Homo sapiens: one gene and its partner. The protein of the gene in region 2 purifies or fractionates together with the protein of the main gene of each other region. This does not show direct contact. Each region holds a gene or a part of one and is shown on either strand. Other genes may lie near its edges.

The links.
Region 1: the proteins of MS4A12 (region 2) and TMEM63B purify together in Homo sapiens (affinity purification with mass spectrometry; one large-scale study listed by BioGRID and IntAct). This does not show direct contact.

The regions. Positions count from the first base shown.
Region 1 is NC_000006.12:44,130,280-44,134,097, forward strand, and holds part of TMEM63B (mechanosensitive cation channel TMEM63B), read left to right. Parts: intron 1-1,937; exon of another isoform or gene 1,938-2,007; coding exon of another isoform or gene 2,008-2,010; intron 2,011-3,818. UniProt on the Homo sapiens protein: Mechanosensitive cation channel with low conductance and high activation threshold. Osmosensitive cation channel preferentially activated by hypotonic stress.
Region 2 is NC_000011.10:60,499,216-60,503,033, reverse strand, and holds part of MS4A12 (membrane-spanning 4-domains subfamily A member 12), read right to left. Parts: intron 1,990-3,818; coding exon 1,852-1,989; intron 1,052-1,851; coding exon 995-1,051; intron 1-994. UniProt on the Homo sapiens protein: May be involved in signal transduction as a component of a multimeric receptor complex.

The DNA of each region.
Region 1 (3,818 bases), on a different chromosome or scaffold from region 2:
TACTCTCTCTGTATCTCAGTGTCCTCCTGGGGTTGTGATGGGGAGCAAATGAGTTACATTTGTAAAGTGCTTAGAACAGTGCTTGGCACAAAAGAAGAGTTAAATAAACATTTAATACTATTATTTTACTACTTTTTTTTCTTTTTCTGTTTTTCTTTTTTCTTTCCTTTTTTTTTTTAGACACGGTCTCTGTCTGTCGCCCAGGATGGAGTGCAGTGGCATGATCTTGGTTCACTGCAGCCTGGAACTCCCTGGGCTCAGGTGATCTTCGCACCTCAGCTTCCGGAGTAGCTGGGACTACAGACATGCACCAGCATGCCCAGCTAAATTTTGGTGGTGGGGGGTATCTTTTGTAGAGACGGGGTTTTGCTATGTTGCCCAAGCTGGTCTCGAACTCCTGGGCTGACGTGATTCTCCCACCACAGCCTCCCAAAGTGCTGGGATTACAGGTGTGAGCCACCATGCCTGGCTTTTTTTTTTTTTTCCCCTCGAGACAAGGTTTTGCTCTCTTGCCCAGGCTGGAGTGCAGTGGCATGATCATGGCTGACTGCAGCCTCCAACTCCTAGGCTCAAGGTATCTTCCCCACTTGGCCTTCAAAAGTGCTGAGATTACAGGGGTGAGCCACCCCACCCTGCCTACTACTACTTTTTTTTTTGAGATGGAGTCTCACTCTGTCGCCCAGGCTGGAGTGCAGTGGCATGATCTAAGGTCACTGCAACCTCTGCCTCCTGGGTTCAAGTGATTCTCCTGCCTCAGCCTCCCGAGTAGCTGGGACTACAGACGCATGCCACCACACCCAGCTAATTTTTGTATTTTTTTAGTAGAGACGGGGTTTCACTGTGTTGGCCAGGCTGGTCTCGAACTCCTGACCCTGTGATCTGCCCAGCTCGGCCTCCCAAAATGCTGGGATTACAGGTGTGAGCCACCGTGCCTGGCACCTACTACTACTTTTATGCTCACTTGTGGATATATTCTTGCCTTTCTCTCTGAAGTGGGTAGGGGTAGAGTAAGGATATTTGTATCTCTTTGTTACAGATTGGAAGACTGAGACTCAGGTTTCGTAGTAACAGAGCTCGCTTCCATCTTCCCCTCCTCCCCTCAGACCACATGGCCTTGCTTTGATCCAAAGCCCTAACTTAAATCTTGCCCAGTAACTCCACTGAAAAAGCTTATATCACTCCTGTAATCCCAGCACTTTGGGAGGCCGAGGTGGGCAGATCATGAGGTCAAGAGATCGAGACCATCCTGGCCAACATGGTGAAACCCTGTCTCTACTGAAAATACAAAAATTAGCTGGGCGTGGTGGCATGTGTCTGTAGTCCCAGCTACTCAGGAGGCTGAGGCAGGAGAATCCCTTGAACCCAGGAGGCAGAGGTTGCAGTGAGCCAAGATCGCGCCACTGCACTCCACTCTGGTGACAGAGCGAGACTCCGTCTCAAAAAAATACACAACAACCCCCCCAAAAAAAAGCTTATAAGTTATAGCTCTCCAACCCCCACCATGCACACACTCCTTAATGGTAAAATTAAAAAGTTAGCTAGAAGTAAAATGCTCCATCACTCTCTGGACACACCTCAACCAAAACCTCAATATCAGACTAGAGAAACTGGGATATAGCTGGTGCAGGCACCTCGTGGAGTGGAAGAACTGCCACCTCCCATCCCCAAGGTATTCTGCCTCAATGTCTTCCCTCTTCTCAGTTGCTCAGCCCAGTGCTGGCTTTGAGAGCAGCTGCCCTTGATGAAACTCAACCCAGCAACCCCACCCCCACAATTAAAAGCTTGGAGCAGCCCTGTCAACTGGCAGAGCTGCCAGCCCAGGCTCCACCCCTTACCTGTCCTGTCACTGTGCAAGTTGCTTCCCCTACTGGGTTCCTGCTTCCTCCCTGTAAAATGGGGATAGTGATCTGAGTGTGCCCTGCCTTCCTCCCATGCAGGTGGGAAGATTAATGCTGTTGTGGAGGGGAGAGTACTTTGTGACCCCAAGGAGGCGGACAGCAGAGGAGCATGGTGATTTCAGTTACTAACCATCTAGCTAGATCCTGTCCACCCTGCTGGGGCCACTTCATGTAGAAGCTTCCAAAATGCTCTACCTTTCTTTGGTGTGGAGAAGACAGGAGTTGATAGGAATGGTACTCTGGGGCTTGTTCTCATTTCATTCTGATCTGATGGAGCCTTGGAATTCAGAGAGAGAAACAGGCAAGGGGTGGGAATAGAGTGTTGAGATTGCTGGAGTACATTGGAGTTGAGAATTGAGAAAGGGGGACTAGTTAGAGTCCCCCCAACCCAAGATACCTATACCTACCTTTAACCTCCCATAGTGCCCCAGGGTTCTGTGCATCTTATGTTTACATACCCGGGCTCCCAGACACACCCATGTTCACACCCCCACTTCGAAGCCAACAACTCCCTTCATTTCCGTGGACTGCCATGCAGTCACCTAGCTCCTCCTGGACACAGGTCCACACATCAACACACATTTACATACCTGGACACACACATTTCCACAGCACCCACAGGTTCTCTGGCCTGAGAACATTTAATGAGCATTTATAAAGCTTCCATGGTCTGCCGAGTCCTGTTCTAGGAACATCAGAAAAGCACCGTGGTGCCCTGAAAATCATTCTAGCTTTAGAAAGAAGGTGAGCTAGGTTTGAGTCCTAGGTCCCTCATTTTATTAGCAGTGTGACCTTGGGAAAGTTACTTAACCTCTGAGGCCCTGTGCCCCCACCCTAAAATGTCAGTGACACTCAATTCAGGATCGTCGAGGATTAAATGAAATCATGTAATATATTATTCTTGAAACTGAGGGCACTGGACAAATGGTACCCAATACAATTACTAAATTAGTGTGTTTTTAAAGGCAGCTTGGACTGGAAAAGGAAGAGGCATAACACACCAGCACACACTCCTTTAGTCTTCCTAATCCAGGCTTTGCAGAGACTCCCTGGGACCAAGTGAAACACATAAACAACTCCATCCTCCCCTCCATCTGAGGGCTTCTGCCTCTTGCCCTGTGGTTGAAGTGTTAGGAAGAGGCAGGAGAAACCCTCTGAGTCCCCCTGGGGGCTAAGGGATGCTGCTCCCGAAGTTGCAGTCACTGTTTCTAGTTTTGTTGTTCTCTTTGGTTTTCCTTTTTCTTCCCTGAGGACCTCCTCCCCTGCTCCACAGCCCGCCCCCGAGGCAGAGCTTCAGTGTTGTCAGCAGAAGGGTCCCCCAGGGACCCCCCAGTAAAATGGGTGGGGCAGTGCTGCATCTGTTGAGGCCACACTTCTCCGCTATCCTGGGATCCTCCCCAGGGCCCCACTCTGCTCTGTCCCCAAGCACTTTGAGAACCCAGGCACTCAGGCTGGCTGTCCCTTTTCTCCTCCTGCCCACCCCATCCACTCTGAGCATCAATGCAGCCGGCCAGTTGCAGGCAACCAGGCAGCACCCTGGCTGCCCAGGCAGGCTAAGAGGCCCCCACCCACTCCCCCCTCCTTTGCCAGTGGAAAAGCTTGCCGTAGGGCATAGCTTTCCCAGCCTTCCCTGCTTCAGAGGCAGGAGCATGGCACTCTGGGAGTTGTAGTGCTCATAACACTCAGGCGATCCCTGTGCAAATAACTGGAGAGAGGACTATGGTATGGGGAAGAGAAATGAGAATAAGCAGGAGTGGCTGGGGCCAGGCAGGTAACTCAAACCCAGAAGTCCTACTATTTACTTGACTTCCTACTCTGACCCATCGTCGAACCTAAGCCAGTTATATTGAGTTCAAAACTCTAACCAAATGAAATCATGCCATTTTTTCTAATAGGCATAGAAAGAAAAGATCAGGATGA
Region 2 (3,818 bases):
TTAGAATGTGCTTGTGCTGCAGCGTGCCTTAGAGCCTCCTGAAGTTCTCTAAAAGCTCTTAGAAAAATTGTCTTAGGTATGTGTCAGTGGCTGTCTCCTCTAAGAGGTGGAATCTATGCTTCGACAATCTCAATTAGACGGAAGGATCCTTAAAAGATGCAGAGAAAGGGTGCTTTATTTTGTTTTTGGACTGCAACAGGAGTGGTTAATCAGAATTAGGCTTATTTTATTTTAATTTGATTTAATTATTTTATTCTTCTTTTGTCTGCAAGAGCATGAGCTACATGATTCTGTGTTCCTCTTTCCCCGTTCTTCTTTCTTGTACTGGATTACATATAATCTTGACACCACCTCTGCTCTAGTTGACTCTAGTTCTTGATAAATCACTTTCTTTTTCCTGGTTCAATAGTAGACCACGAAATTGGAATAGGTGGGGTGCTGTGACCGACAGAGCTCAAAGTCCTGTCTTACTCATCATTTTTATAAACTCTTCTTACAGAACAAGCTAGACTCATTTAATGGCAATTTAAAGAATTGTAAAACACACAACCTGTGTAAGAGTAGGAAATAGCACAAATAAAAAAATAAAAATACAAGACAGAGCTGAGAAGTGGCAAATGAACAGTAGAGACTTGGTAACTGATGTGTCTAGTATGTATTTCCTGGCTCCTGGATTCTCCTTTGGACTTCCCATAATAGAGTGTGACCAGACTGAACCAGGGAGCTTTTAGGTTAAAGCTTAAACAACCCTGATTTTTACTACTTCTCACCTTTGTGAATTCAAGAGTCAGGATATGGAGCTCTGCCATTTCTTAGTGGCAAACTGTGTGGACCATTTTCTCACCCCAGCGCTCAGACCATAAGGCAACCAATAGATTTTTTTTGGGAAAGGTGCTCCCTTTTGCATTTCCCAAATCCAGCTTTTCAATTTTCCTCCCCAATATGTTAAGCTAATCTTTAAAGGGGTTCAAAAAGTAGAGACAGTCTAACTTACCAGACAACGGGAAAGCTCCTTGGATGCTGACACAGAGAGAGAGCCAGAGATAATAAACTGTGGAAATGGACAAATTTATTTGTGAAATGGGTTAACTGGTTGTGCTTGGGAATTTCTCTTTATATGAAAGGTTGGTCTATTTATGTTCATCTAGTTTCCTTCTCAAAATTTTCTCTCGCACTTCTGAATTTTCTGGAGTAACTCTCAGTCATATGTCCTTGACTTCTTTTTTATTTTCTTTTCCTTAATTTCTGGCCTATGAAGAACTCACAATGTTTAAGCATTCCTTGTTCTGAGGCTTACTGCTCCATCCCTTCTCATAATCAATTGCATTTTTTTAATTAAAAAATTTTTTTAGAGATTGAGTCTCACTATATTGCCCAGGCTGGCCTCCATCTCTTGAACTCAAGCAATTCCCTGGCCTCAGCCTCCCAAGTAGCTGGGACTACAATCACACACCACTATGCCTGGCTTACTTGCATATTTTTAATCATGTTTCCAATCACCTTTTCTTTTCTTTCTCTCTCCACCCAATACATACATTTCCATCTCAAATGTAGTAGGATATCAAAACTTTGGCTTGCTGATTACATGATTAAATTTTAAAGAATGGAATAAGCTCCTAGGTAAAATGGCGAAAGAGTTCCCGATTTTTTCATGCTCATTCAGAGCTGTTAATTTTTCTAAATTCTCCAGCCCTCATTCAGAGCTGTTAATTTTTCTAAATTCTCCAGCCCTCAGATGTAGGGCTTTATCAAGAAATGAGTTGTGAATTGGCTGGAGATAGCAATACTTTATAAACCAAGAGGGAATACTTTATAAACCAAGAAGGACTGGTGTTCTAGCAATCTACTCACAGAAAGGCCACCCCAGAATGGGTATCCACCAATAACAGCAGTAGAGGCAAAACCTAATACTTCTCTAAAAGAGAAGGATATTAAACACAAAACAATTCCAAAACCAATGTGCATCAATCCAACCATGATCTGGATCACCTGAAAAAAGAAAACAGCCATTTAAAATTACTTCTTCACTTTCAGACGTGTGAAACATTACTGTCATTGCTGCCCCTGCTTATTTATTGTCAATTTTGCTGAGATCCATCGTTGTCATTCAGGCACACATCTGAAGCAGGAGGTGGGTCATGAAGATTCTGACATATACTAGAATAACTGGAGTGCAAGGCCCTTAGTGAAACGCCCTGTTTTGAGGTATTTGGAGAATTTACTGGGGTGGCCCAAGAAGAATTCTTCAGAAAGTACAGCTGCTTAATCATGCATTAGCATCTCTGAGGGCCTCTAAAAGACTATTAGAAAAACAATACTTTAACTGTGATGTCAGTAGCTGCTTTTTCAGATGGATCAGTTCTCTGCTTGGGTCATCCCAGTTACGGGTAAAGGAATTGGTGAAGATAAAACCATTTATTAGGCATGAATTATGTGCTTGGTCATGTTCTGAACACTTTACATTTATTGTTTCATGTAATCCTCCTACAACTGGATTGAGTCCCAGAGACATAAAGATATCAGGTATCCAAGGTCACACAATTCCTAAGAGGCAGATCTGGGAATTTACTGCAGCACATTGACTGCTGAGCCTGTCTGAATTATTCGGTACTGTCTTCCCCCATGCTCAGCTCTGCTCTACCTTTTCCATGAAGTCTTCTTGATTACACCAAATTAATCTTTTTTCTTTCTTTCTGAATTTCAGTTGCATCTCATGACATAAAACACACCTTATTACTTGATTTTGGATTCATTTATATTGTTTTTTTTTTTGTTTTTTTTTGGTTTTTTTTTGAGACAGAGTCTTGCTCTATTGCCCAGGCTGGAGTGCAGTGGCATGATCTCGGCTCACTGCAAGCTCCGCCTCCCGGGTTCACACCATTCTCCTGCCTCACCCTCCCGAGTAGCTAGGACTACAGGCTCCCGCCACCATGCCTGGCTAATTTCTTTTTGTATTTTTAGTAGAGACGGGGTTTCACGGGTTAGCCAGGAAGGTCTGGATCTTCTGACCTCTTGATCTGCCCGCCTTGGCCTCCCAAAGTGTATATTGTCCTTTTTTAAAAAGTTGCAGGTATGCAATCATTTTCTTACCAATCATTCTTCTTATCAATCATATATTACTAAAAGTAAGGTATACATCTTTTACCTCCTTGTACCTCTTATTGAACCTTCCTTCATTGTAAATAAAGATAGATTTCTGAGGAATAATCATTTCTAGATTGGTCCAAAACTTGATTGTAGATTTGTAATTTATTTTTCCCCATGGTTACATCTTATCTATCCAGGGAGACTGCAAATACAAAGACTGCTGTATTTATTTCTTCAATAAATAGCTACTGAACACAAGTAAATCGAATTAAAATTAGAAAAAAACCCAGTTTCATAAACAATGCTAAAAGTTTCTTGAGACATCAATAAAAACCATGAACCTTTCTCCCTGAAAAATTATTCTTGCACATTCATACACACACATACCATACTTTTGCTTATAGCTTCAGAGAGATGATGGGCCACGTTTAGCCTATCTCACTTAAAGAACTCCTGTATTAGACTTTATATTTGGTTTTTACAACTGTTCTTTAGAGCAGCAATTCAGCCGTCTGGTCACAAACTTCCCATTCTCATCCTTGCTGTCACCTTGATGAGGGGCAGTTAGATCTGGATTTGTACTGGCCCTCATTTCTCCTCCTACAGCCCTGGCTGTACCATCTACTGATCAAAATTGCCTATAGGACAGACTTAAAAATTTGGACATACAATTTGTCTGCATTTTTGGCCACAGAAGCACTTTAAGGTCTGAGTTGACTGGTACAGGTGTG